Homo sapiens: one gene and its partners. The protein of the gene in region 1 purifies or fractionates together with the protein of each later gene. This does not show direct contact. Each region holds a gene or a part of one and is shown in the gene's direction. Other genes may lie near its edges. The genes, in order: TMEFF1, ATP1A3, EXOC1, HADHB, TGS1, INTS7 and SLC39A10.

Region 1 (3,500 bases):
TTGTTTTTTTTTGTTTGCTGGAAAGCGTAGAGCCCAATGTGAAATGTACTGGGAAGTGTCTAGGAACCTCAGGGACTGGATTGGTAGACTTGCAGCACCCCTGGATTTCCCTGTTTCCCTCCTCCCACATTTCTTTTTTGTTGTTTTAATGTGTGCTTTGCGATAAGCTGCCTCAAATTCTTTTCTTAATGAGTTGTGGGACATTCATAAATACTGTTTTTATACTTCAAATGTTTTATTAATCAGTTCTCACTGAAGGCTGGCTAATTTATACATTTCACTGCTGTCAGCTTAAAAATGTAAATTGTCTGTTAAGTGTCTTAAATATTTCTCCCTGTCAAATTATCATCAGCTGATGCAGTTGTCTTTTTATCTACTTTTAATTGGAATTCAGATAATTTCCAAGATTAGCACCTACAGCTTACCTCCTTGACTGCTTGACATTGTTTCTGTTATTAATAACTTATTTTCATCTTCCCCTTGCATCTTACATGTTTATATTTTATACACTGAAAAGTGTCTTGAATATAATTTGGTGCTATGTTCAGAGGACTGTAAATGTTTATACCTATTTTTTCAATAGTCTTAATTTTCAGGTACTTAGCCCTAAGGAATAACACTAAATATAGAAAAGCGCATATTCACCAAGATGTTTACCACATCTAATTTATAATTGTGAAAAATTGAAAATAACTGACATGTCTTAGAACTGGGAATAGATAATGCTAGCTATATTATAGTCACTGGATGGAGTATTATATTTCTGTTTTGAAATTATATGTATCTATTTTGAAAAAAATGCTAAGAGAGTAGATTTTAAGTGTTCTCACCACAGACATGATAACTATATGAGGTAATGCATATGTTAATTAGCTTGATTTAGCCATTCCACAATGTCTATACATTTCCAAATATCATGTTGTACATCAGTGGTCCCCAACCTTTTTGTTGCCAGGGACTAGTTCCGTACAAGACAGTTTTTCCATGGACTGGGGATTGGGGGTGGGGGTGATGGTTTGGGGATGATTCAAGTGCATTACATTTATTGTGCACTTTATTTCTATTATTATTACATGGTAATACTTAATGAAATAATTATACAACTCACCATAATGTAGAATTGGTGGGAGCTCTGAGCTTGTTTTTCCTGCAATTAGACAGTCCCATCTGGGGGTGATGGGGGACGGTGACAGATCCTTAGGCATTAGATTCACATAAGGAGCACTCAACCTAGATCCCTTGTGTGCGCAGCTCACAATAGGGTTTGCGCTCCTATGAGAATCTAATGCCAGTGCTGATCTGACAGGAGGCGGAGCTTGGGTGGTAATGTGAGTGATGGGGAGTAGCTGTAAATACAAAGAAGCTTTGCTTACTTGCCCACCACTCACCTCCTGCTGTGTGGCCTGGTTCCTAACAGGCCATGGACCAATATCTGTCCATGGCCCGGGAGTTGGGGGGGATCCCTGTTGTACATGATAAATATACGTAATTTTATTTGTCAATTTTTAAGCAAATTTAATTTAAAAAGTGAAAAAAAGGAGTAAATCTTTGTGGCTTTAGATTAGGCAATAATTTCTTAGATATGACACCAAAAGCAAAAGCAACAATAACAAAAAAAGATATACATTAACAATATTCAGCAACTTTAAAATTAATGTGATATAACTTAGGTGAAAGACGCACCATGTAGGCATATCAGAAAGACAGTAGGGAAACATACAAATGACATTTTTCCCCCAGATGGTAGGAAAGTGCATGATATCCTATTCCTGTTTAAATTTTATTACTATTTTGTATTTTTTAATGTAAAAGCTTGGGAGTATCAAAATTTGTAATTTTCATAGGAATATATATATTTTTCCTTTTCAGATGTGAATCTGGCTACACTGGACAGCACTGTGAAAAGACAGACTTTAGTATTCTCTATGTAGTGCCAAGTAGGCAAAAGCTCACTCATGTTCTTATTGCAGCAATTATTGGAGCTGTACAGATTGCCATCATAGTAGCAATTGTAATGTGCATAACAAGGTAGGTAATGATGTAAGAAATATCAACTTTAAATTAGAGGCAGGCAACTGTTTATTTATAGATGCTTTGAGGCCACCAGTCTATTAGGAAAAATCTTATGATCAGTTCCCTGAGGTTTTCAGTGGTCTCTCCCTATCCTTCTTCTTTAGGATACGGGCAGGGACTAATTCCCAGTCTTACAGGTATATCTGGGCGACAAGCAGAGAGGGAATGAGAATAGTCAATGAGATAAAGGAATTTAGGGATCTGAGAACTGTATACAGTCTTTGAACACTGTATTCTGGGAAAATAATGTTAGTAGCAATCTTTTTTTTTTTTTTTTAAGAGACAGGGCCTCACTCTGTTGCCCAGGCTGGAGTGCAGTAGCAATTAGAGCTCATTGCAGCCTCAAATTCCTGGGCTCAAGTGGTCCTCCAGAGTAGCTGAGACTATAGGCGTGAACCACCCTGACTGGCTCAGAATTTCTAGAATGATCTGCACATGCATAGGAGATCCATGCAGAAGATTTTTAAGCCCTGCACAACTGCAAGGGGTTCTGTGCCCTAAGAACGTACTTTACTCACAGTTAGTATAGTAAGAAAGGAAGAAATCAGAGGCTGAAGATAGTTTTATTGTGATATCATGGTGTTAACATTACTTCATTTTCAGGATTGCAGCGATAAGTAATAAGCTTTAAAATTCTGTATTATAAATAAAATTATTCGTCATAAATTAAATGACTTATTTGGAGTGCAGTGGCATAAAATGGGTCTTTTCTAAACTGAGTAGAAATACATAAGTCAGACTGAACTGGGCCTGAGAAAAGTCAGAGTAAATCCAGCAAGTTCGTGTTGTCTTTGTGCTTCCCAGTCTAATGCTTTTCTTCCTGCTTACCTCTTTCTTTAAGCTTCAGTTCAGAAGTCTCATAAGCATCATTTCTCCACTTCCCTGCATTATTCTGGGCAGAGGGTTGAAGCATATCAAATACAGATATTGGCAGGCCATAATGGATTTGTGGCCCTTCTATCCAAGGTCTGGATAGAAGCCAGACCTTCAGTAGTCTCAGCCATCTGGAGCTGAGATGATAAATCTAGAAATGATAAAAAAGAAAAGGTTCTCCAAGTAACAGATATTTTTCATAACACCTAGGCATGAAAGTCAGTGCGCTTTATTTCACAGAACAGATGATCTGCCCTTAGGCAAGACTACTGAATATAAAATTGGACGGTAGATCAAAGTAGGGACATAATCATGTAACAAATAATGATAACAGAAAGAGAAGATAGGGAAAACACATTTAACAGCATGACTGGCTGTAGCCATTTAATATAGACTCAGAGGTTAAGTAATTTGTCTGTGGTCATCCGACTAGTAAGTGGAATTGTCTGGATTTGGATTCAGTTTGATTCCCATTCATTCTTTACACTGAAAGGTTCCATGTTGAGTCATCTTGGGAAACATGTTTGCCCAGTATGACCATTGCATGGGAGCAG
Region 2 (3,500 bases), on another chromosome or scaffold:
ATAAATAAATAAAATAAAATAATAAGCCTGGCGCAGTGGCTCACGCCTTTAATCCCAACAGTTTGGGAGGCTGAGGCAGGAGGACTGCTTGAGGTCAGGAGTTTGAGACAAGCCTGGACAACATAGTAAGAACCCATCTCTACCAAAAAATGTGAAGGCTGGGCGCAGTGGCTCATGCCTGTAGTCCCAAGACTTTGGGAGGCCGAGGCGGGTGGATCACCTGAGGTCAGGAGTTCGAGACCAGACTGGCCAACATGGCAAAACCCCATCTCTACTAAAAGTATAAAAATTAGCCAGGCGTGGTGATGGGTGCCTGGAATCCCAGCTACTCAGGAGGCTGAGACAGGAGAATAGCTTGAGCCTAGGAGGCAGAGCTTGCAGTGAGCCGAGATCGTGCCACCTCACTCCAGCCTGGGCGACAAAAGCGAGATTCTGTCTCAAAAAAAAAAAAAAAAAAAAAAAAATTTTTTTAAATTAGCCAGGCGTGGTGGTACATGTCTGTAGTTCCAGCTATTTGGGAGGCTGACCCGGGAGGTTGAGGCTGTAGTGGGCCATGATTGAACCACTGCACTCTAGCCTGTGTGACAGAGGGAGACTCCATCTCAAGAAAATAATAATAATAATAATTATTATAATAATAATAATTATTATTATTATTTTTAAAAATTTTTTCTCTGGCTGCTTTGCTGCCAGCTTCACCCCAGAAGTCCATTCTCTGTGAGGTTCCGCCTGACAGCTGTGAGCATATTGACTAAATGCTGTCTTCAAGGTGCATGGCAGGGACTATCTTAGAAATACCATTCTCCTCTTTCATTCTTTGACTTAATGTTTTATGTGAAGTTTTCCATATTAGGGCCGGGCAGGGTGGCTCACGCCTGTAATCCCAGCACTTTGGGAATCCGAGGTGGGTGGATCACTTGAGGTCAGGAGTTCAAGACCAGCCTGGCCAACATGGCAAAACCCCATCTCTACTAAAAATACAAAAATTAGCCAGGCGTGATGGTGGGCGCCTGTAATCCCAGCTACTTGGGAGGCTGAGGCACAAGAATTGCTTGAACCTGGGAGGTGGAGGTTGCAGTGAGCTGAGATCGAGCCACTGCACTCCAGCCTGGACGACAGAGCAAGACTGTGTCTCAAAAAAAAAAAAAGTTTACTGTTTTCCATATTAGCAATGTTGAATGCTACCCTATGTCAAATGGATTTTTATACGCAAAGGATTAAGCATATTGTGAGCACATAGTCTGATGATTTGGGGCAAACTGAACAGAATCACGTCAGCTGCAACGAGACTGCGTCTCCCTGAAGCCCCCTCAAGACCTTATTTAGCCCCTGCCCCCCAACCCAAGGGTAACCCCTGATCTGGCTGCTAACAGCATAGATTAACTTTGCCTGTGTTCAAACTTCCTATTAACGGAATAATTCAGTATGAACTCATTTCTGGCTCTTTTTGGCTGAACATGTTTTTGACGTTCACCCATGCAGGTGCAGGCAGCAGTAATGTATTTGTTTTTATCAATGTTAGTATTCCATTGTCCACAATTTATCTTTTCTGCTGTTAGTGGACATTTGAGTAGTTTGCAGTTTTGGACAATTTTTTTTTTTTTTGAGTTGGAGTCTCACTCTGTTGCCCAGGCTGGAGTGCAGTGTCACGATTTCGGATCACTGCAACCTCCACCTCCTGGGTTCAAGGGGTTCTCGTGCCTCAGCTTCCCAAGTAGCTGGGATGACAGGAGTGTACCATCATGCCCTGCTAATTTCTGTATTTTTAGTAGGGATGGGGTTTCACCATGTTAGCCAGGCTGGTCTCGAACTCCTGATCTCAAGTGATGCGCCTACCTCGGCCTCCCAAAGTGCTGGGATTACAGGCGTGAGCCACTGCACCTGGCTGTTTTGCACTATTATGCATGTGGCTGCTATGAGCATTCTAGTCCCTGTCTTTGGGTGTCTCTGCCCTGTTTCTATTGGTCTGAATTGGGGGTGGCATTGCTGGGTGCTGCCTCATTCTTTTCCAGGCCCTCAGGATTCTCTGGGGGCTGGGCAGCTGGGCTGTGGCCCTCGTGTCGCTCATCCAACCCTGCTGCCGGGCTTGTCCCTGTAACTTGCCTGCCCTTGCTCGTCCTCCAGGTGTGTCTGACGCTGACCGCCAAGCGCATGGCCCGGAAGAACTGCCTGGTGAAGAACCTGGAGGCTGTAGAAACCCTGGGCTCCACGTCCACCATCTGCTCAGATAAGACAGGGACCCTCACTCAGAACCGCATGACAGTCGCCCACATGTGGTTTGACAACCAGATCCACGAGGCTGACACCACTGAGGACCAGTCAGGTGAGCGCAGGCCCCGGGTGAGGACCATGGGGGCCTGGCTCCAGGAGTCCCTGGCCCTCACACATGCCTCCCCCAGGGACCTCATTTGACAAGAGTTCGCACACCTGGGTGGCCCTGTCTCACATCGCTGGGCTCTGCAATCGCGCTGTCTTCAAGGGTGGTCAGGACAACATCCCTGTGCTCAAGGTGGGTTCAGCTACTGGCCTCACCTCGGCCCTGCCTGTGTCCTCCCCTCAGCTGTCCCTGTTCTGACAACCCTTTCTCCTTGCAGAGGGATGTGGCTGGGGATGCGTCTGAGTCTGCCCTGCTCAAGTGCATCGAGCTGTCCTCTGGCTCCGTGAAGCTGATGCGTGAACGCAACAAGAAAGTGGCTGAGATTCCCTTCAATTCCACCAACAAATACCAGGTACTCTGGGCTTTCCGGGAGAGCCAGCCTGGACCTCAGGTTCCTTATGACGCCTGTAAAGAGGTGTCATAGAGCCTTGATTTTCCCGTCTGTAAAATGGGAATGATAATACCCGCCTGGTGGGGAGAGGAACAGGGAGAGCTTGAGAGTGGGAGCCGGATCTCTGTTGGAGTGAGACGCTGAGGAGTAAAGATCTTCCTGCAGGCCAGGCGCGGTGGCTCACACCTTTAACACCAGAACTTTGGGAGGCTGAGGTGGGGGGATCACTTGAGGCCAGGAGTTCGAGACGAGCCTGGGCAAGATGGCAAAACCCCATCTGTACGAAATTTTTTTTTTAATTAGCCAGGTGTGGTGGTATGTGCCTGTGGTCTCAGCGATTTGGGAGTCTGAGGCAGGAGGATTGCCTGAGCCGGGGAGGTTGGGGCTGCAGAGAGCCTACATCACGCACTGTACTCCAGCCTGGGTGACAGAGCAAGACCCTGACTCAAAAAAAAAAAAAAAGTTTTCCTACAGCAGAGAGTGGGAACAAGCAGGAGACCTCTTGGGGCAGAGCAGCAACTTTAAATTATTCAGCAAACTTTTTTTTTTTTTGAGACAGAGTTTCGCTCTGTCACCCAGGCTGGAGTGCAGTGGCGCGATCTCAGCTCACTGCAAGCTCCACCTCCCGGGTTCACACCATTCTCCTGCCTCAGCCTCCAGAATAGCTGGGACTACAGGCGCCCGCCACCATGCCCAGCTAATTTTTTGTATTTTTAGTAGAGACGGGGTTTC
Region 3 (3,500 bases), on another chromosome or scaffold:
CATGTATGAAATACTACACATTTGCATTGAAAAATTGTAATACATATCCACACAAATATGTATATGAAAAATAAAATAGAGATTTAAAATTATTTTAAGTTGATGTTTGAAAAGATGCTGAGTTAGATAAGAAAAAGGAGATAAGTGGAAACCTATTTTTATAACAGTTTTATTGAGATTATGTATCATAAAATTTACCCTTTTCAATTGTATAATTGAGTGATTTTTGGCATATTCACAAGGTTGTATAACCATCATTACTATCTAGTTGAAAGACATTGTCATCACCCCAAAAAAGAAACTCCATACCCATTAACAGTCAATCCTCGTTTCCACCTTCCCTTCCAGCTCCCGAAAACCACTTATATTTCTGTATCTATGGATTTTCCTACTCTGGATATTTCATATAAATGGAATCATACAATACGTGGTCTTTTGTGGCTGACTCCTTTCACTTAGCATAATCTTTTCAAGATTCATCAATATTTTAGCATGTTTCATTACTTCATTTCCTTTTTTTCTTTTTTTTTTTTTTTTTTTTTTTTTTTGGAGACAGAGTCTGGCTCTGTCTCCCAGGCTGTAGTGCAGTGGCGCAGTCTCGGCTCACTGCAAGCTCCGCCTCCCGAGTTCATGCCATTCTCCTGCCTCAGCCTCTCCCAGTAGCTGGGACTACAGGCACCCACCACCATGCCCGGCTAATTTTTTTGTATTTTTAGTAGAGACGGGGTTTCACCGTGGTCTCGATCTCCTGACCTCTTGATCCGCCCGCCTCGGCCTCCCAAAGAGCTGGGATTACAAGCGTGAGCCACCGCCCGTGCCCGGCCCTTTGTTTTTTTTGCAGCCGAATAATAATCCATTGTATGGATATACCACATTTTGCTTATGTATCATTTGATGGACATTTCTGTTATTTCCATTTTTTGGCTATTGCAAATAGTGCTACCATGAACATTCATGTACAAATTTTTGTGTGGACATATGTTTTCAGTTCTCCTGGAGTGGAATTGTTGGATTATAAGGTAGCCCATGTTTCACTTTATGAGGAGTCACCAAGCTGTTTTCCAAAGTGGCTGCACCATTTTACAATCCCACCAGCAATGTATGAGAGTTCTGTTTCCTCTCATCTTCACCAACACTTGTTACACCAACACTTGTTATTTTCTATCGTTTTTATTTTAACCACCCTCATGGGTGTAAAGTGGTTGATACCTCATTGTGGTTTTGATTTGCATTTCCCTAGTGGCCAGTGATGTTAAGCATGTTTTCATATGCTTATTGGCCATTTGTATATCTTTGGAAAAATGTCTGTTCAGGTCTTTTATTCAGTTTTTAATGGGGTTATTTGTCTTCTTATTGTTGTAAGGGTTCTTTATGTAGAAAACTATATTAAAAGTTTGAGCAGTGGGTTGAAGATTTTTTTCTTAAATCTTGTGTGTGTGTGTATACTTGGTGAGCATTTCCAAACATTTTAGAGTTTGATAACACTGGTTCTCTAATTTTATTTCCAAACTTACAGCTTTGTATTTTTGTGATATAGGTGTATTCATATATTAAATCATTTTTCCTAGGCTTGTTAACCAAAAATTATTTTCAAATCATAAATTCAGAAGTATAAGATGGAATGATGTTGAGGGTGAGCTTAATATCTATACTCCACATTTTTCAGCTGAGAAAAGATGACAGCAATCAAGCATGCATTACAAAGAGACATTTTTACACCAAATGATGAACGCCTGCTGAGCATTGTGAATGTCTGCAAAGCAGGAAAAAAGAAAAAGAACTGTTTTTTATGTGCCACAGGTGGGTATTTAGTAAGAAAGAGTACTTGTTTTGTATCCTTTTATTATTTAGAAGATATTTCCTCTTTGTTTTGAATATCCTCATTGTCTCTGTAATTGGAAAAATTGTTGGGTCAACACATTCCTAGTTAACACTTGGCTTTGACAGGCTGTTAATTGTTGTCAATCTGGTGGCAGTGAAATAGTATCTCATTGTGGTTTTAAATTATATTTCCCTATAATGATGAGATTGAGCATCTTCTCATGAATTTCTTAGTCATTTCATTCTGTTGTGTATGAAATTTACCTGTTTAAGCCTTTTACTCATTTTTCTGTTGTGTTGCTTGTCCTTTTACTGATTTGTACAAGTTCTTTCTATAATCTGGTTATCAACCTTTTGTTGGTTGTATGCATCCCAGTTAGTGGCTTGTCTTTTCACTTTTTATGATGCCTGTTAATGAAATTTATAATTTAAACTAAATGAAATTAATTAATCCTTTATGGCTTTCCCTTTTGGTGTCTTAAAAGATCCTTCCCTGTATCTTTTGTGCAGTCATAAAAATATTTTCCTAAATTCAAAAGTTTTATAATTTTGCCTTTTACAGTTTAGTCTTAGTTCACCTGTGTTGACATCTGTCATGGTGTGTGTGAGCATTTCTGGTTGTCATCTTATATGTTATTTTTATTTTGTTTTTGTTCTTTATTCCACCTAAATTTTAGAAACAACTTGTCGAGTTTCAGACTTTGTTGGGATTTTGATTGGAATTGTTTTGAACCTATAGTTCAATTTGGAGAGAACTTGCATTTTTATTGTATTGAATCTTTGTGTCCATGAACATGGTACAGTTCTCTATTTATCTAGGTGTTTTTTAACTTTATAAGTTTCATCATTTTCTCTAAAGGTTTGTCATGTATATTCTTGGATTTACTCCTGAGTATTGGTTTATTCTTAGATTTTATTTGATAGTCGTGAAAGCGCTTATTAACATTAATACATTTTAAAATCATATATTGTTAGAATTCTACAATGAATTGTTGGTGTTTTATATGGATGTCTATCAATCTTGCCAAACTTTCTTATTAATTCTAATTATATGTAGACTTTTTGAAAGTAGTGATATTTTTCTTCCTTCCTTTATAGTTTTTATATCTTTTATTTTTGTTGGTTTAGTTTCCTAGTTAGGACTATCAATACAGTCTCCATCTCAAGGAGAATGACTTCATTTTCAAGCATGGTATTTGGTATAGGGTTTTTATAGCTATACTTTACAGTGTTAAGTAAGTTCCCTTCTATTCCTGGTTTCTTACACTTTTTTAAAAAATCATGAATGGGAGTTGAATTTTATCAACTGCTTTTTCATATCATTGATATCATAAAATTTTCTTCCTTGTTAGTGTAGTATATAATTGTACTTGGTTTTTGAAATGATAAATTGACTTTTTAGAATGACCTCACTCAATCGTAATGTATTTGTATTAGGCCATTCTTGCATTGCTATAAAGAAATTCTTAGGCCAGGAGCAGTGGCTCATGCCTGTAATTCCAGCACTTAGGGAAGCTGAGGTGGGCAGATCGCTGGAGCCCAGGAGTTTAATTAAGACCAGCCTGGGCAACATAGTAAGAACTTTATATATAAATGTATTGTTGCTCTTTGAAATGGTATTTTGCTCTTTCAAGCCTCACAGACTTTACTTATGTCAATCATTCTTTAGATTTTTACCT
Region 4 (3,500 bases), on another chromosome or scaffold:
CTTCCTGACTGCTGTAGCATCTCACTCTAGGAATAAAATCCAAAAGGAAGATTGTAGTTTGTTTTTTGTTTGTTTGTTTTTTGAGACAGAGTCTCACTCTGTCCCCCAGGCTGGAGTGCAGTGGTGCCACCTCGGCTCACTGCAACCTCTGCCTCGCGAGTTCAAGCGATTCTCCTGTCTCAGCCTCCTGAGTAGCTGGGATTACAGGTGCTCACCACCAAGCCCGGGCAATTTTTTTTGTATTTTTAGTAGAGACGGGGTTTCACCGTATTGGCCAGGCCGGTCTCGAACTCCTGACCTCAGGTGATCCGCCTACCTCAGCCTCCCAAAGTGCTGGGATTACAGGCATGAGCCACTGTGCCTGGCCTGTTTTTGTTTTTTTTTTTTTTTTTTAATCCCGATGTGAACAGATTTTCTCTTCCTCTAGATTACAGAAACTTCCTGTTCCTGATCAAAATGAATAAATATTTAAAAGCATAAACTGGCCGGGTGCAGTGGCTCACGCCTGTAATCCCAACACTTTGGGAGGTTGAGGCGGGTAGGTCACTTGAGGTCAGGAGTTCGAGACCAGCCTGGCCAACATGGTGAAACCTTGTCTCTACTAAAATTATAAAAACTAGCCTAGTGTGGTGGTGTGCGCCTGTAATTCCAGCTACTCAGGAGGCTGAGGCAGGGGAATCGCTTGAACCCGGGAGGTGGAGGTTGCAGTGAGCCGAGATGGCGCCATTGCACTCCAGCCTGGTGACAGAGAGAGACTCTGTCTCAAAAATAAAGTAAATGAAATAAATCTTACGTTTAAAAGCCCTTTTTCATGGATTTTCCTCAGAGACTTTGCAGAAACCAAGGGGTCAGTTATTTATCAGTTGGAACATTTTGGACTTTATGATCACAAATGCTTTTTAATCTGTGTAACTTCATCTACAGAAAACCATGGTCCATTAAGACTAGAGCGATCCCTCTATCTCTTCATGCCAGGCTTCTACCAGGGAGATAACCTGTACACATTACTCACGAGCATAGTGCGTAATCCACATAGGGTAATGTCTGCAGATTTGAGTATGTGTTCCCTAATTCTTTATCTAGCATGTAGAGTATAAATAACACAATACTGGATGCTTTTATGGATGAACAAGGAATAATACCTAGCACCTTTCTTCTAGAAGTTTATAGTATGAAGAGAGAAGATAAGATGCATCTGAGAAACTAGATTAAACTTGACATTGTTTGATCAAGAGCCACGTGAGCAATACCAACATGGTTGGAGACAGAGGAGAAATCCATCGTGGTGAATCTAGAGCAGGGTTTCTCAACTTTGGCACTAACATTTTGGGCCAAACAATTCTTTGTTTTGGGGGGCTGTGTGTTGTAGGGTGTTTAGCATGGCCTCTACCCATCGGATAGCAGTAGCAACAAGCTCCTCCCCACCTCTGCCCCAGGTACACACGGTTGGTATAACCAAAAGTATCTCCAGGTGTTGCCAAATCTGATCTAGAGCAAGAAAAAACATGGAACATGAAAACAGTGTGTTTAAAATAAAGCCAGAGAGGGCTGGGTGCGGTAGCTTATGCCTGTGATCGCAGCATTTTGGGAGGCTAAGGCAGCTGGGTGGCTTGAACGCAGGAATTCGAGACTAGCCTGGGCAACATGGCAAAACCTCGTCTCTACCAAAAATACAAAAATTAGCCAGGTATGATGGTACGCACCTGTGGTCCCAGTTACTCAGGAGGGAGGTGAGAGGATTGCTTGAGCCCGGGATGTTGAGGCTGTAGTGCGCTGTATTCACGCCACTGCACTTTAGCCTAGGTGACAGAGTTGCCTTGTCTCAAAAAGCAAATAAAGAAATTAAAATAAATAAAAAATAAAATAAGCAAGCCAGAGAGGAGTAGTCTACCTTATTATGAATTCTTTCAGGACAACCCCCAAGTCAGTCAAACCTTCCTATCCCTGCTCTTTTTTTGTCTGCTTGTGCCTTTTCAATGTACTTAACATGCCAGGTGTGGTAGCTCATGCCTGTAATCCTAGCACTTTGGGAGGCTGAGGTGGGCAGATTGCTTGAGCTCAGGAGTTCGAGACCATCCTGGACAACATGGCAAAACCCCATCTCTACTAAAAATACAAAAACTAGCTGGGCGTGGTGGTGGGTGCCTGTAGTCCCAGCTACTCGGGAGGCTGAGGTGGAAGTATCACCTGAGCCCGGGAGGTTGAGGCTGCAGTGAGCCGTGTTCAGGCCACTGCACTCCAGCCTGGGTGACAGAGGGAGGCCCTGTTTCAAAAAAAACAGAAAAACCAAGTACTTAACAGTTTGTTTTGAACTCCAGTGTATACTTGATTGAGGACAAAGACCATGTGGCAAATCTTTAAACCTGCAGTGTTCAACTTGGCACTTTGTAAATAATAGTTTCTTTTATTTACTTTTTTGTTTTTTAGAGGGTGTCTAAAAATTCTATGCTAGGATTTAGACTCATCTAAACTAAGGACATAGCTAGTACATAGCACTGTGCATAGTGCTGGATAAAAGATATTCTACTTCTGGCCGGGCACAGTGGCTCATGCCTGTAATCCAGCACTTTGGGAGGCCGAGGCAGGCAGATCACGAGGTCAGGATATCGAGACCATCCTGGCTAACACGGTGAAACCCCATCTCTACTAAAAATACAAAAAATTAGCCGGACGTGGTGGCGGGCGCCTGTAGTCCCAGCTACTCGGGAGGCTGAGGCAGGAGAATGGCGTGAACCCGGGAGGCGGAGCTTGCAGTGAGCTGAGATCGCGTCACTGTACTCCAGCCTGGGCAACGGCGAGGCACGGTCTCCAAAATAATAAATAAAAAAAATAAAAAAAGAAAGATATTCTACTTCTTCCCTTTGTGGTCCCTCAGATCATTATCTTAACCTGTGTAGAATAGTGAAGAAGGGACAAGCCCAGCCTTTGGAATCATCTAGACCTGGTTTCAAATCCTGGCCCTGTTACCTTAATAGCTTTGTGATTTGGGTGAGTCACTTAACCTTTCAGAGCCTCAGTTTTCCCCTCTAGAAACTTACTTTTATTGGTATTTGCTGTATCATGTTTATGTTTATACAGTTAAAAAAGCCCCTGGATTTCTCATTTTAACAGCATCCATTTGTAGAGCATCACTAGGAATTAGATTCTGTACTAGACAGAGCCTGATGCATATATGTATACATGTATATATGAATGTATATAAATATATATGTGTGTGTATATATATACACACATATACAAATATACTGTATGTTATGTGATGCCCACAAAAACTCTATGAAGTAGACACTATGAGCCCCATTTTGTAGAGGAAATTCCAGTTTAGACTGACTACAAACTTTCCCAAGATCACAGTGATTGATTGGCAGAGCCAGGATCCCACTCCAAAGCCTGTACTTTTCTCCTTGTTCTCTGCTGTCCCTGTACTAGGTGGATTCATCACCATTCATTGCTCTAATTGGACTTTGTTTTCTTTACAGGGCCATGCTATGATAGTGGAA
Region 5 (3,500 bases), on another chromosome or scaffold:
TGATTCCCAGTTTTCTAGACCAACTCTGTTCTTGGTGAAATCAGTGCTTAATCATACACTGCAATTCAGGATAAATATATGATCAGTTCCTAATATTTACTAGCCAGCTTTTCCCTTGGGAAGTTTGCTGCTGCACAATTAGAGCAGAATCGTTTGTTCTTAAACCATATATATTGTCATGCTCTAGAGGGGTTGTGGAACTGATTGGCCTCATAGTTGACTTGGGAAGACACAAATGCAGCTTTGCTGAAATGCTTCTAAATATAGCTTGTATCTCCTTCACTACTGTGGGTAACTTTTCTCCGTAAATGATGGAGATAGAAATTAGAGGGATATCCAGCTCTTCTGGGCCACACATAGTGCTACCTGCCAGTCCTGTGCTGATAGCCTGTGCTTTCTGTAATTTGTTGAATTGAACAGTCTTCATGTTTCCAGTATCTGGTTCTGAGAATGAGTGAAGGACAGAGCTTAGTGAACTGGTTGTTTTTGGGTTTTGGTGGGGTTTTTTTCTTCTTTGGAGACAGAGCCTCGCTCTGTCCACAAGGCTGCAGTACAGTGACATGATCACAGCTCACTGCAGCCTCAACCTCCCAAGCTAAAACAATCCTACCTCAGCCTTCAGAGTAGCTGGAACCATATGCATGGGCCACCATGCCTGGCTAATTTTTTTATTTTTTGTAGAGACAGGGTTTCACCATGTTGCCCAGGTTGGACTTCTAGGCTAAAGCAATCTTTCTACTTCAGCCTCCCAAAGTTCTGGGATTACGGGCATGAGCCACCGTGCCCGGCCTGGTAGCCTCCTCTTAGGACACCAGTGTAGGTTAGCTTGTGATGCCTGGGAGATTTTTTTTTTTTTTTTTTTTTTTTTGAGATGGAGTTTTGCTCTTGTTGCCCAGGCTGGAGTGCAATGGCCTGATCTCAGCTCACCACAACCTCCACTTCCCGGGTTCAAGCAATTCTCCTACCTCAGCCTCCCAAGTAGCTGGGATTACAGGCATATGCCACTATGCCCGGCTAATTTTTTTTTTTTTTAGTAGAGACGGGGTTTCTCCATGTTGGTCAGGCTGGTCTCGAACTCCCGACCTCAGGTGATCTGCCTGCCTCAGCCTCCCAAAGTTCTGGGATTACAGGTGTGAGCCACTGTGCCTGGCTGCCTGGGAGAATTTTTTTGACCTGCCACCAGGTGCTCCTGTTGATGATGGTGGCTTTAAGATTTATTTACGGAAGCATAGAAATCTCATTTCTGTTTACCATGTGCAGAGAAATGGAACTAATTTAATGAATATTTTTAAGTTTGAATGATGCCTGATTTTCTGCTGACTAAAAAATATTTTCTTCTTTCACCTCCCAGAGAACTTTTAATTACCAGAAATGTTTTGCCAACTTTGTTTTATTTTCATGTGGTTATTAGTTGGATCTAGCAAAAGAAAAGAGGGACAAAAATAACTAGTGGCAAAGCACTTTCTTGGCCTGTGTGACATTAGGTTTGTAGTCACAGCCAGTATTTCAGATGCTTGCTGCTGCTAGCATTGTATTTGACACAGATCTGAAGGCCACATAAAATGCTCTTTATTTTTACCTGGTACAATTATCTTCTAACCACATTTCTGCGTATCATAGATATAATCTCTTCCATGTAGTAATAGGGCATTTTTCAGCGCTCTGATGTTTCTGTGTCTTTCTTGTAATAAAGTGTATCTGTCATTAGTAATTATTATCTATTCTTCCAGTAGGATGCAGTTGGGAGGTTATTTTCTCTCATTCGGTTATCGTGCACTTTTACTTTAAATCCAGTTTCTCTTGAAAAAATGCAGTTTTGCTCCAGGCGCAGTGGCTTAAGCCTGTAATCCCAACACTTTGAGAGGCCGAGGCGGGCGGATCACCTGAGGTCAGGAGTTTTGAGACCAGCCTGGCCAACATCGTGAAACCCTGTCTCTACTAAAAATACAGAAATTAGCCAGGTGCGCCAGTAATCCCAGCTACTCGGCAGGCTGAGGCAGGAGAATCGCTTGAACCCAGGAGGCAGAGGTTGCAGTGAGCCGAGATCATGCCACTGCACTCCAGCCTGGGCGGTAGAGCCAGACTCGTCTCAAAAAACAAAACAAAACAAAAAAAAAGTGCAGTTTTGAATGTTTACCTTTTTATTTGATGCTTAAATCTTCTGTGCTTTAACACCTTCATTGTGATCTTTTCTGTTTCTCCTTTGCCAGTCCCCAAAGAACAGCTTTACTGCCTGATGTCAAATCTAGTCAAGAGTTCAGTCCTTAATTCTAGTTCTGGTCCAAATTAATTGGGATTTATTTTGGTAAAATTAATATATTTAGGTAATATGCCAAAAATGTGGAAAGTAATCCAGAGCTGCTAATCTTTATCTGTTTGTACCTGCCGTTCTCCCTCTCTCTGTCCTTCCTACCCTCTCTTCCTCTCACAATTTACTAAATTCTAAGAAAGCGGAGGGAACCAAATAATATTTTGTCAGCTAAACCTTCTAGTGAAAAATAAGGACAGCTAGAAATTAATGGCATTCATTAAATTTGCCTGAAGCAAAGTTATTTGCTTGAACTACTAAATTTATAAGTCTTTCCAACTCCAAAATTCTAACTTTTAACATATATGTAGTTGTGAAAATGTGAAAACGTACAAAAAGGCTAAAGTTAGAAATTATTCGTAATCAGAACACTTGAAAGTAACATGTTAAGTTTTTAAAAAAAAATTGTTTCTAAACACTAAGTACATAAGAGTTTTCTCACTATATTTTGTCACATAGATACACCACCTTCTCCATTATCAGGAACAATATTTGTTTTATTTGTCCGTCATCTGACTCTCCCAGCCAGAATGTAAAATTCATGGAGGTGGGGATTTCTTGTTTGTTTTTTGCTATACTGCACTGCCTAGAACAGATACCTATAAGCTCTCAATAATAGTTATTGAGTAAAGTAATTTATGAACTGTTTTGCACAGACTTCAGAACTCATGATTTCTGAGAAAACCCCCATCTTACCTCCGTTTTTTATTTTAATCCCAAGCACCCACATCTAGACAACCCTCTGAAAGGTATTAAGAAAAACAAAACTACCCTACCTTCTCAGAAATTGGTTTTTATGGAATTCTATTTATGGCTTATATAAGAAATAATAACCATCGGCCAGGCACGGTGGTTCACGCCTGTAATCCCAGCACTTTGGGAGGCCGAGGTGGGTGGATCACGAGGTCAGGAGATCGAGACCACCCTGGCTAACACGGTGAAACCCTGTCTCTACTAAAAATACAAAAAATTAGCCGGGTGTGGTGGCGGGCGCCTGTAGTCCCAGCTACTCGGGAGGCTGAGGCAGGAGAATGGCATGAACCCAGGAGGCAGAGCTTGCAGTACTAGCCGAGATCACGCCACTGCACTCCAGCCTAGGCAGCAGAGCGAGACTCCATCTCAAAAAATAATAATAATAATAACTATATTTATAGTACCTTTATTTTTTTTTTCAAGTAAACTTCAGAAATGG
Region 6 (3,500 bases), on another chromosome or scaffold:
GAGGGTATTGCAAAATCTGCACCATTCTTTTAAAAGGCAAAATGGTGACTTTCTGCCTGAAAACAGCCTGAAGTCCCTTGTGGTCCTCTGAGTCCACGCTTCAAAGATGTTTCTCTCCTTAGACACTAGTGTGGCATCAGAGGTCCACCAAAGGTGGATGTCTCTGCAAATACTTTCCAAATTACTTGTTGCAGGAAGCTGATTAATGCTATTTTAACAGTTAAATCTGAAAAAATAGAACCAGTGTCTTTAAATCTGTGTTGTGATTATCTCAGGTAATAGACTTGGCATTTGTACTATGAGTCTGTTGGGCACAAAATGTTCAATTGCCTGAACCCAATAAGGAATGGATTTTTCTGGCTTTTAGCCTTAACACCCAACTTTAAAAAAAAAAATGTTTACAGCATGAGCAACTAGGTGACACTCTGCTTGAAAGCAGGAGCCTAGAGGGACAGACAGCATACCACATGGTGCATGCAGCAGTTTTCAACCTGTGGTGTTGGGTTTCAATCAGGCTGGTGGGAAAAATATTAGAGATAGTTATAGAAATAGACACAAATCTTCTTGGAAGGCTGAGAAGTTTGCCTAACTTCAGTAATAGATCTGGCTGAAGGCGGCCTGATCTCTTTACCTTTAAACAAATTAAAATAGTAATAAAGAAAGGCAGAGTAGTTTACCTGGCTAGCTTGTTTACTCATATAAAGACTAACCTTTGATGTACCGTGAGTGCTTAAGTGCCTTTTACTCAGAAGTCCACAATGTCAATTTCCCTCTAATGGTGTTGACTCAAGCTTTTGTTAATTAATCTTACTGAATAAATGCGAGTCTGACTAGCTGATCAGGGCCTAGTTGCAACTGTTTACAGGACTCAGCAGGAGCCTGTAAGCGGCTGGGACCCTCAGCTGGACTGGCAGAGCAGAATATCTGTGTGTCAGCATACTTTATTTATCCGTTGCTGAATCGGGTCTGCAAGAACAGACCTCCCGCAGCTAGTGCCCCCGTGAAAGGAGCGCTGCCTCACTGTGGTGACTTACGAGGCCACTGAGACGGGAGTAGACTGAGGAAGGGATAGTAGACCAAGCAGGAATGGTTCTGGTTCACCTGAAGTTAAAAGTGTTCTTATGATACTTTCAGTTTTCTTCTATTAGACTGGGTAATCTTTAAAATATCTTTGAACGCTTAAATTCTGATTTTATGACCACTTTCATTAAGGCTCAAAATATTCTCTGTGGTGTTTCTGTACCTCTGCAGTCATGCTGGGATTTTCAAAACTCAGTTAAATGTGTGAGGCAGATTTGAGAAATAAGATATTTTATTAGAGTTTCAGGATTCCCCGACTATATAGTCCTCTTTCATCTGAATTCGACCAAGTTTCCACCACTGCTTACTCTGAGGACCAATGGCCATAGAGACAAGCCACCTAATGAAAGAATGAGCCAGCTCAAAGCCAAAGTCCTGCAAAATGCTCGGGCTTCTTTACCATACTGTTTATCATACTTTGCCATGTGATAGTTACTCTATATTTTAGTATCTAATATAATTGTTTAATAATATACTGATAGTTCTGAGCGCTGTAGAAATGTGGAATTTGCCTATTGCTTGGCCTCGAGGACTGTGGATTTTCTCATTTCTGTCACTTATATTTTATTGAATATACTTCACAATAAAGTAAAAATCTGTAATGAATGATTTAGTATGTATGCACAGTTCCTGGATGTGATGCCTAGTTCTTGATTGGTATGTACCTTTGTAATAATCTATATGGGCATTTGTAGTTTTATACTGAATGTACCACTTGTTGATGAAATTTGAAAATTTATTTTTATTTGATTTAGTTTCTTTTTTCCCCCAGCACACAGCATGCCTCTGCAATGCCATCATTGCTTTGCTGAAAGTTCCCCTTTCTTTCCAGAGATATTTTTTCCAGAAACTACAGTCTACCAGCATCAAGGTAATACAGGAAGAATACTAAGGTTAATATAGGTTTTAAAACCAGGTGTCTTCTGAAGATTATGTAGGACATAGCTACACTTCAGTGTGTTACCTTTGGTTTATTGGTTTTTTTGTTTTGTTTTGTTTTTTGAGACAGAGTCTCGCCCTGTCGCCTGGGCTGGAGTACAGTGGTGTGATTTTGGCTCACCGCAACCTCCGGGTTCAAGCGATTCTCCTGCCTCAGCCTCCCAAGGAACTGGGATTACAGGCATCCACCACCTCACGCAGCTGATTTTTTTATTTTTGGTAAAGATGGGGTTTCACCATGTTGGCTAGGCTGGTCAGGAACTCCTGACCTCAAGTGATCCACCCACCTCTGCCTCCCAAAGTGCTGGGATTACAGGCATGAGCCACTGTGCCTGGCTTACCTTTGGTTTTGATAAAACCTAGTTGTAAGCCATTTCTCTCCTTTATCAAGTGGTTTGGTGAAAGAAATGAATTTGGGAGTTAAACTCTCTCCCTTTTTAATTGTCAGTGCCAAATTCTATGAGACAGGCATTTGGGTAACTGGAGCTCTGTTGTTTGTCTCTCACCTCCAGGAATAAATTAGTGATTTATCACAGTAGCCTGCAAGGATCTTGAGCTGAGTCTATTCAGACCCAACTTATAGACCCAACTTAGAATGAATCAGATCCAGTAAACTGTCACCAGTTCTTCTTCCAAAGTACTTCTGCCTTTCAGTAACATGTTTTGAGGGGCTAACCAGTGAGTAGAATTAGTATTTTGAAATATTTAAGCCACTCACAATTCAAAAGCTATTTTTGATTCAGAAAATGAAATTGTTGGAAAAGGGAGAAAATTGTCACTTCTAAGAGATCTCCTGGATTATCCCTGTTAGTTAATGTCTTCAGTAAACTTTTACATCCATGCAAATGTTTTGATTACAAATAACAGAGCATTCCATTTCAAAATGACTGGAATAATGAGGAAGATTTGACGATCTAGATAAGAAGTCCTAAAGTAGGATGTCTCCAGGGTTGATCAGTAGTTCAACAACATTATCAAAAAGACTCAAATTTCTTCCATCTTTTCATTTAGCAAGACTTGGGCTTTCTTTAATTGATGTGTTTGGGATTTTTAATACATTTTTGAAGAAAAACTAATGAGAGGTGAAAAATGTCATTTGATTCATTTGTAGATATTGACTTTTTTTATAGCACAGTGACTTCGTTGTGTAGATAATCCTGGAACTTTAAGTTCATTTACATTTGAATTTAGTTTATTTAAAATTACGTAAGACCAAAGAGACAGCTCTTAGGTAATGAAAATTTATATAATGCCTTTCCCTACTAGAAGTGGTTCATTGTCAAAGAAATGCCTCACCACAAAAATTGGGAGAATAGTGCCTTTGCTTTTTTCTAATTCTCTATTATCCTCAAATAGAACTGAGGTTTGGGATGAAAACCACAGTGATGTTTAGAAGGAGGCACTTTAAAGGTACATCTGTCTCGTTGTCCTGGCACAGTCAGGTCCTGTGGGGGTGGGGGAGTGCACAATCGAATTTGTTA
Region 7 (3,500 bases), on another chromosome or scaffold:
TGGAAATGCCATGAGTTTAGTATCAGAAGGACATTATTACTAGTGCATTTTAAAGTGATACCAGTCATAGTTGCAAAAGAAAGTACACAATGGGAAATGGAAGAGAAATGTAGGGAATCAAAACAACTAGTTTTTTCCTTTATAACGGAAGTTTTATAATTCATCTTTTATGTAAGTGTAATTCTCATTAAAAATACCCTAAAGCTTAAAGTTTGCAAGGCTGCCCAGCCTAACCCACAACAGTTTGATGCTGCCCCCTAGCGTTTGATTCCCTTCACCTTTTGCTAAAATAAGGTAATGTTTAAATTACAATTAGATTTACTTACTGCTGTAAATCTGGTCTATTTTAGTTTCCTCTGGGTAGTTAGTGTTGCTAATAAGATGGACGTAAGTGTTTTTGAACTGGTGAATTCTGATTGCTTTTAGCCCCCAGTTTTCCAAATAGGGGTGAATTTTGGGTAGAGATAGAACAATCACCAAGTTACCTTGCTCCAAAAAAGAAATTTACGTATGGGATTGTTTTCAAAGCGGGAAGTTAGCTGTGTAAATAACAACAATTTTATATATTTAATCTGGGCTTCTCCTTATCTTGAATGATATAAAAATCTACTTTCTAGATTAATTTAGTTCCATATAACTTTGTATTGCTTTGACTGTACTGATAATAAAGTTTGAAAGTGTTAAATTTACATTGTGAGCTTTTTTTTAAAATTCGAATTTATTTTCTATGACTTTTATAGAATGATTCTTAAAAAATAGTTTCAAGGACCTCTTCATAGCCACAAGATTTCCTTTTTTATATCATTAATATTATTTTATGTGAATACTATAATGAAACCCAAGTATTCAGTTTACACACAGATATTATAACACAATATACCACTACACAAAGGCAATGAACAGATAACATTCTACAAAATCTACTTTACAGAAAGGATTTTCTGTAGTCAATGCAAACTCTTAAGGTTTTAGGTTTTATTTAGATTATTGCAATATCAGTATTTCAAACTCTTTTTTTTCTTTTTATTATCCCTTATAAGTTCTATGGATAGGCCACAGGATAACTTTTAGCTTTTTCTAAAATATCCAAACATATTCTCAATAAAAAATTAGTGGAATGCTTAAAAGTATAGTAGGTATGAAGAAATATAGAATCAAAATTACAGTTTTAAATAATAGTATGTATTTATTTATATAGAGACAAGGATCTTGCCATGTTGTCCAGGCTGGTCACAAACTCTTGGGCTCAGGCAATCCTCCCATCTTGGCCTCCCAAAGTGCTGGGATTACAGGCATGAGCCACCGTGCCCAGCCAGTAATACTAAATTATTTCCAAATTAACTGCTTAGGAGACCACATACAATGTTCAGACATGTTAAAACAGGACACAATTCATTGTATCACATCAGTAATTCTGTGTCGAATACTGTTTTCCTATCAGAACGTAAGGGTTTTTTTGGATTGCCAGATACAAGGAGTGGTTATTTAATAGATTTTTAATGGTAGATATTTTTATGTTAAAAGATGTTAGAATAGGATGCTACTGGTGATACAGGTTTGCAGGCTTGTACAAGTATAAGGACAAAATCTAAAATCTTGCTCAGGTAGTGTTTATTTTCACAATCTAAAAGTAAATATTTTGTCATAACCTTTTATAATCATGTTTTATAATTACTCATTTTTAGATACTGCTGAAAGGGAGGTATCAGATAATACTTATCCTTGTATTAATATTTCTAATCAATTTTACCCTTTTATATACTCGACTTTGGGGGACAGCCCATCCCGTTAAGATTTTTAGGGATTAGAAAAGCAAGAATGTTGTAGGATGTATCCTTATTAATATCATTATGTACTTCCATAGGACGAGAAGTATTGTTATAAGAACTGTGAACTACGAAGGAGGTTAATTTTAATCCTCTATAATGAAGATTTAATCAGTGATCACTTTAGGTTTTAGATTTTCATTGAATAAAGGAAGAAGAAAAACCTCAGTCACTTTTAGTGTAGTAAGAACATCAGAGATATGTATCCTACTGTGGTGTTCCCTTTTTTTTTTTTTTGTGAGACAGTATCTCTGTTCCCCAGGCTGGAGTGCAGTGGTGAGATCAGGGCTCACTGCAGCCCTGACCTCCTGGGCTTGGGTCATCCCCTTACCTCATCCTTCCTAGTAGCTGGGAATACGGGAGCGTGTGCCACCATGCCTAGCTAATGTTTTGTATTTTTTATTGTAGAGACAAGAGTTTCACCATGTTGCCCAGGCTGGTCTCAAACTCGAACTCAAGTGAGCTACCTGCCTTGGCCTCTTGAAGTGCTGGGATTACAGGCATGAGCCACCGTGCCCAGCCTATGCTATTACTTTAATATCTATAAATAAAAAGAAACAATTTCAGATATTCCTTGCCTTCCCACCTCTAGGCTTTTTTCTAAATTCACTTTTATATATTTGAATTTTTGAGTTTTAAAATAGTGGTTTCCCCTATAATTGTCTGCTGGATTGGCACTTTAAAAAAAAATCTGTAAATTAAATTTGGATCAGCAAACTATGGGCCAAATATCCCTGCTTCTGTAAATTGTTGGAACAAAACTTGCTTATTGATGTGTGTATTGTCTATAGCTGCTCTTGCGGTAAAATACTTTAGTAGAAAAATGTTCAGTCAAATGATCAATTCATAGGTAATGTGAATTTGCAGGTGTTCTTTACCTACATAGTAGAGAAGCTTTTTGTCTCTTTCCGCTTTCCATTTTTCCTCTGCAGAGGGAATTATGCTTTATTATGCTTGGAGTCGGAAAAGGAATGTGAAGCCCTTGGCCTTCAACTGTTGGTTACCACCGAACTGTCACACTGTTTGTAGCTACTTATGTAGCTCTCTCACAGTTTACCTTTTCTAATTGAAAAGCTGATTGTGTCTTCCTTGTAACTCTCTCAGAGCAGGAAATGGATCATATTTTTATGCCGCCTATGTCTCATGTCTTCTTTCCCTTCCCCTTTCCCTCCTATCTTCTCACTCCCCTCATAAAGCAATTCAAAACTGCATGCTTACAGGCCTTTAAACAAATATTTTGGTATATTAACTCAGTGCACTTCTACTGAAGATGACTCCTTACATTATTTTGCTTGCATGTGAAGAAATATACTTTGCACTGTGTTATAGAGGAACATAGCTTCTTGATGAAAGGGGCTAGGGAAAGATTTATTTAAATACTTTATCAATATAAATGAAACAATACATGGTGTGTTACTACATTATAAAATGAGATCAGTAAAACAATGTAAGAAAACGTAATAATAAGATAGTATAATATACACATAACGTATTCTGTGTATATATACATTATAAGGCAGTGAGATCATGTTTTCTATTCCCATGGACCTTTTTTAGAAAAGCATATCATATTTTCATAATTTTTTAATGTTTGGAATATACTGTTTTTAAGATTTTGATTTTATGGTGTTTCAAGAATATAGAAGTTATGAAAAAAAAAGAAATAAGAGAAAA

Evidence for each region.
Region 2: the proteins of TMEFF1 (region 1) and ATP1A3 purify together in Homo sapiens (affinity purification with mass spectrometry, with the first as the bait; one large-scale study listed by BioGRID). This does not show direct contact.
Region 3: the proteins of TMEFF1 (region 1) and EXOC1 purify together in Homo sapiens (affinity purification with mass spectrometry, with the first as the bait; one large-scale study listed by BioGRID). This does not show direct contact.
Region 4: the proteins of TMEFF1 (region 1) and HADHB purify together in Homo sapiens (affinity purification with mass spectrometry, with the first as the bait; one large-scale study listed by BioGRID). This does not show direct contact.
Region 5: the proteins of TMEFF1 (region 1) and TGS1 purify together in Homo sapiens (affinity purification with mass spectrometry, with the first as the bait; one large-scale study listed by BioGRID). This does not show direct contact.
Region 6: the proteins of TMEFF1 (region 1) and INTS7 purify together in Homo sapiens (affinity purification with mass spectrometry, with the first as the bait; 3 studies listed by BioGRID). This does not show direct contact.
Region 7: the proteins of TMEFF1 (region 1) and SLC39A10 purify together in Homo sapiens (affinity purification with mass spectrometry, with the first as the bait; one large-scale study listed by BioGRID). This does not show direct contact.

What each region holds. Positions count from the first base shown.
Region 1 is NC_000009.12:100,570,649-100,574,148, forward strand, and holds part of TMEFF1 (tomoregulin-1 precursor), read left to right. Parts: intron 1-1,869; coding exon 1,870-2,028; intron 2,029-3,500. Other genes in the region: MSANTD3-TMEFF1 fusion protein, read left to right, coding at 1,870-2,028.
Region 2 is NC_000019.10:41,980,731-41,984,230, reverse strand, and holds part of ATP1A3 (sodium/potassium-transporting ATPase subunit alpha-3), read left to right. Parts: intron 1-2,124; coding exon 2,125-2,323; intron 2,324-2,399; coding exon 2,400-2,509; intron 2,510-2,594; coding exon 2,595-2,729; intron 2,730-3,500. UniProt on the Homo sapiens protein: This is the catalytic component of the active enzyme, which catalyzes the hydrolysis of ATP coupled with the exchange of sodium and potassium ions across the plasma membrane.
Region 3 is NC_000004.12:55,856,648-55,860,147, forward strand, and holds part of EXOC1 (exocyst complex component 1), read left to right. Parts: intron 1-1,666; 5' UTR 1,667-1,676; coding exon 1,677-1,800; intron 1,801-3,500.
Region 4 is NC_000002.12:26,286,439-26,289,938, forward strand, and holds part of HADHB (trifunctional enzyme subunit beta, mitochondrial isoform 1 precursor), read left to right. Parts: intron 1-3,479; coding exon 3,480-3,500. UniProt on the Homo sapiens protein: Mitochondrial trifunctional enzyme catalyzes the last three of the four reactions of the mitochondrial beta-oxidation pathway.
Region 5 is NC_000008.11:55,818,446-55,821,945, forward strand, and holds part of TGS1 (trimethylguanosine synthase), read left to right. Parts: intron 1-3,500. UniProt on the Homo sapiens protein: Catalyzes the 2 serial methylation steps for the conversion of the 7-monomethylguanosine (m(7)G) caps of snRNAs and snoRNAs to a 2,2,7-trimethylguanosine (m(2,2,7)G) cap structure.
Region 6 is NC_000001.11:211,945,058-211,948,557, reverse strand, and holds part of INTS7 (integrator complex subunit 7), read left to right. Parts: intron 1-1,852; coding exon 1,853-1,951; intron 1,952-3,500. UniProt on the Homo sapiens protein: Component of the integrator complex, a multiprotein complex that terminates RNA polymerase II (Pol II) transcription in the promoter-proximal region of genes.
Region 7 is NC_000002.12:195,660,226-195,663,725, forward strand, and holds part of SLC39A10 (zinc transporter ZIP10 precursor), read left to right. Parts: intron 1-3,500. UniProt on the Homo sapiens protein: Zinc-influx transporter. When associated with SLC39A6, the heterodimer formed by SLC39A10 and SLC39A6 mediates cellular zinc uptake to trigger cells to undergo epithelial-to-mesenchymal transition (EMT).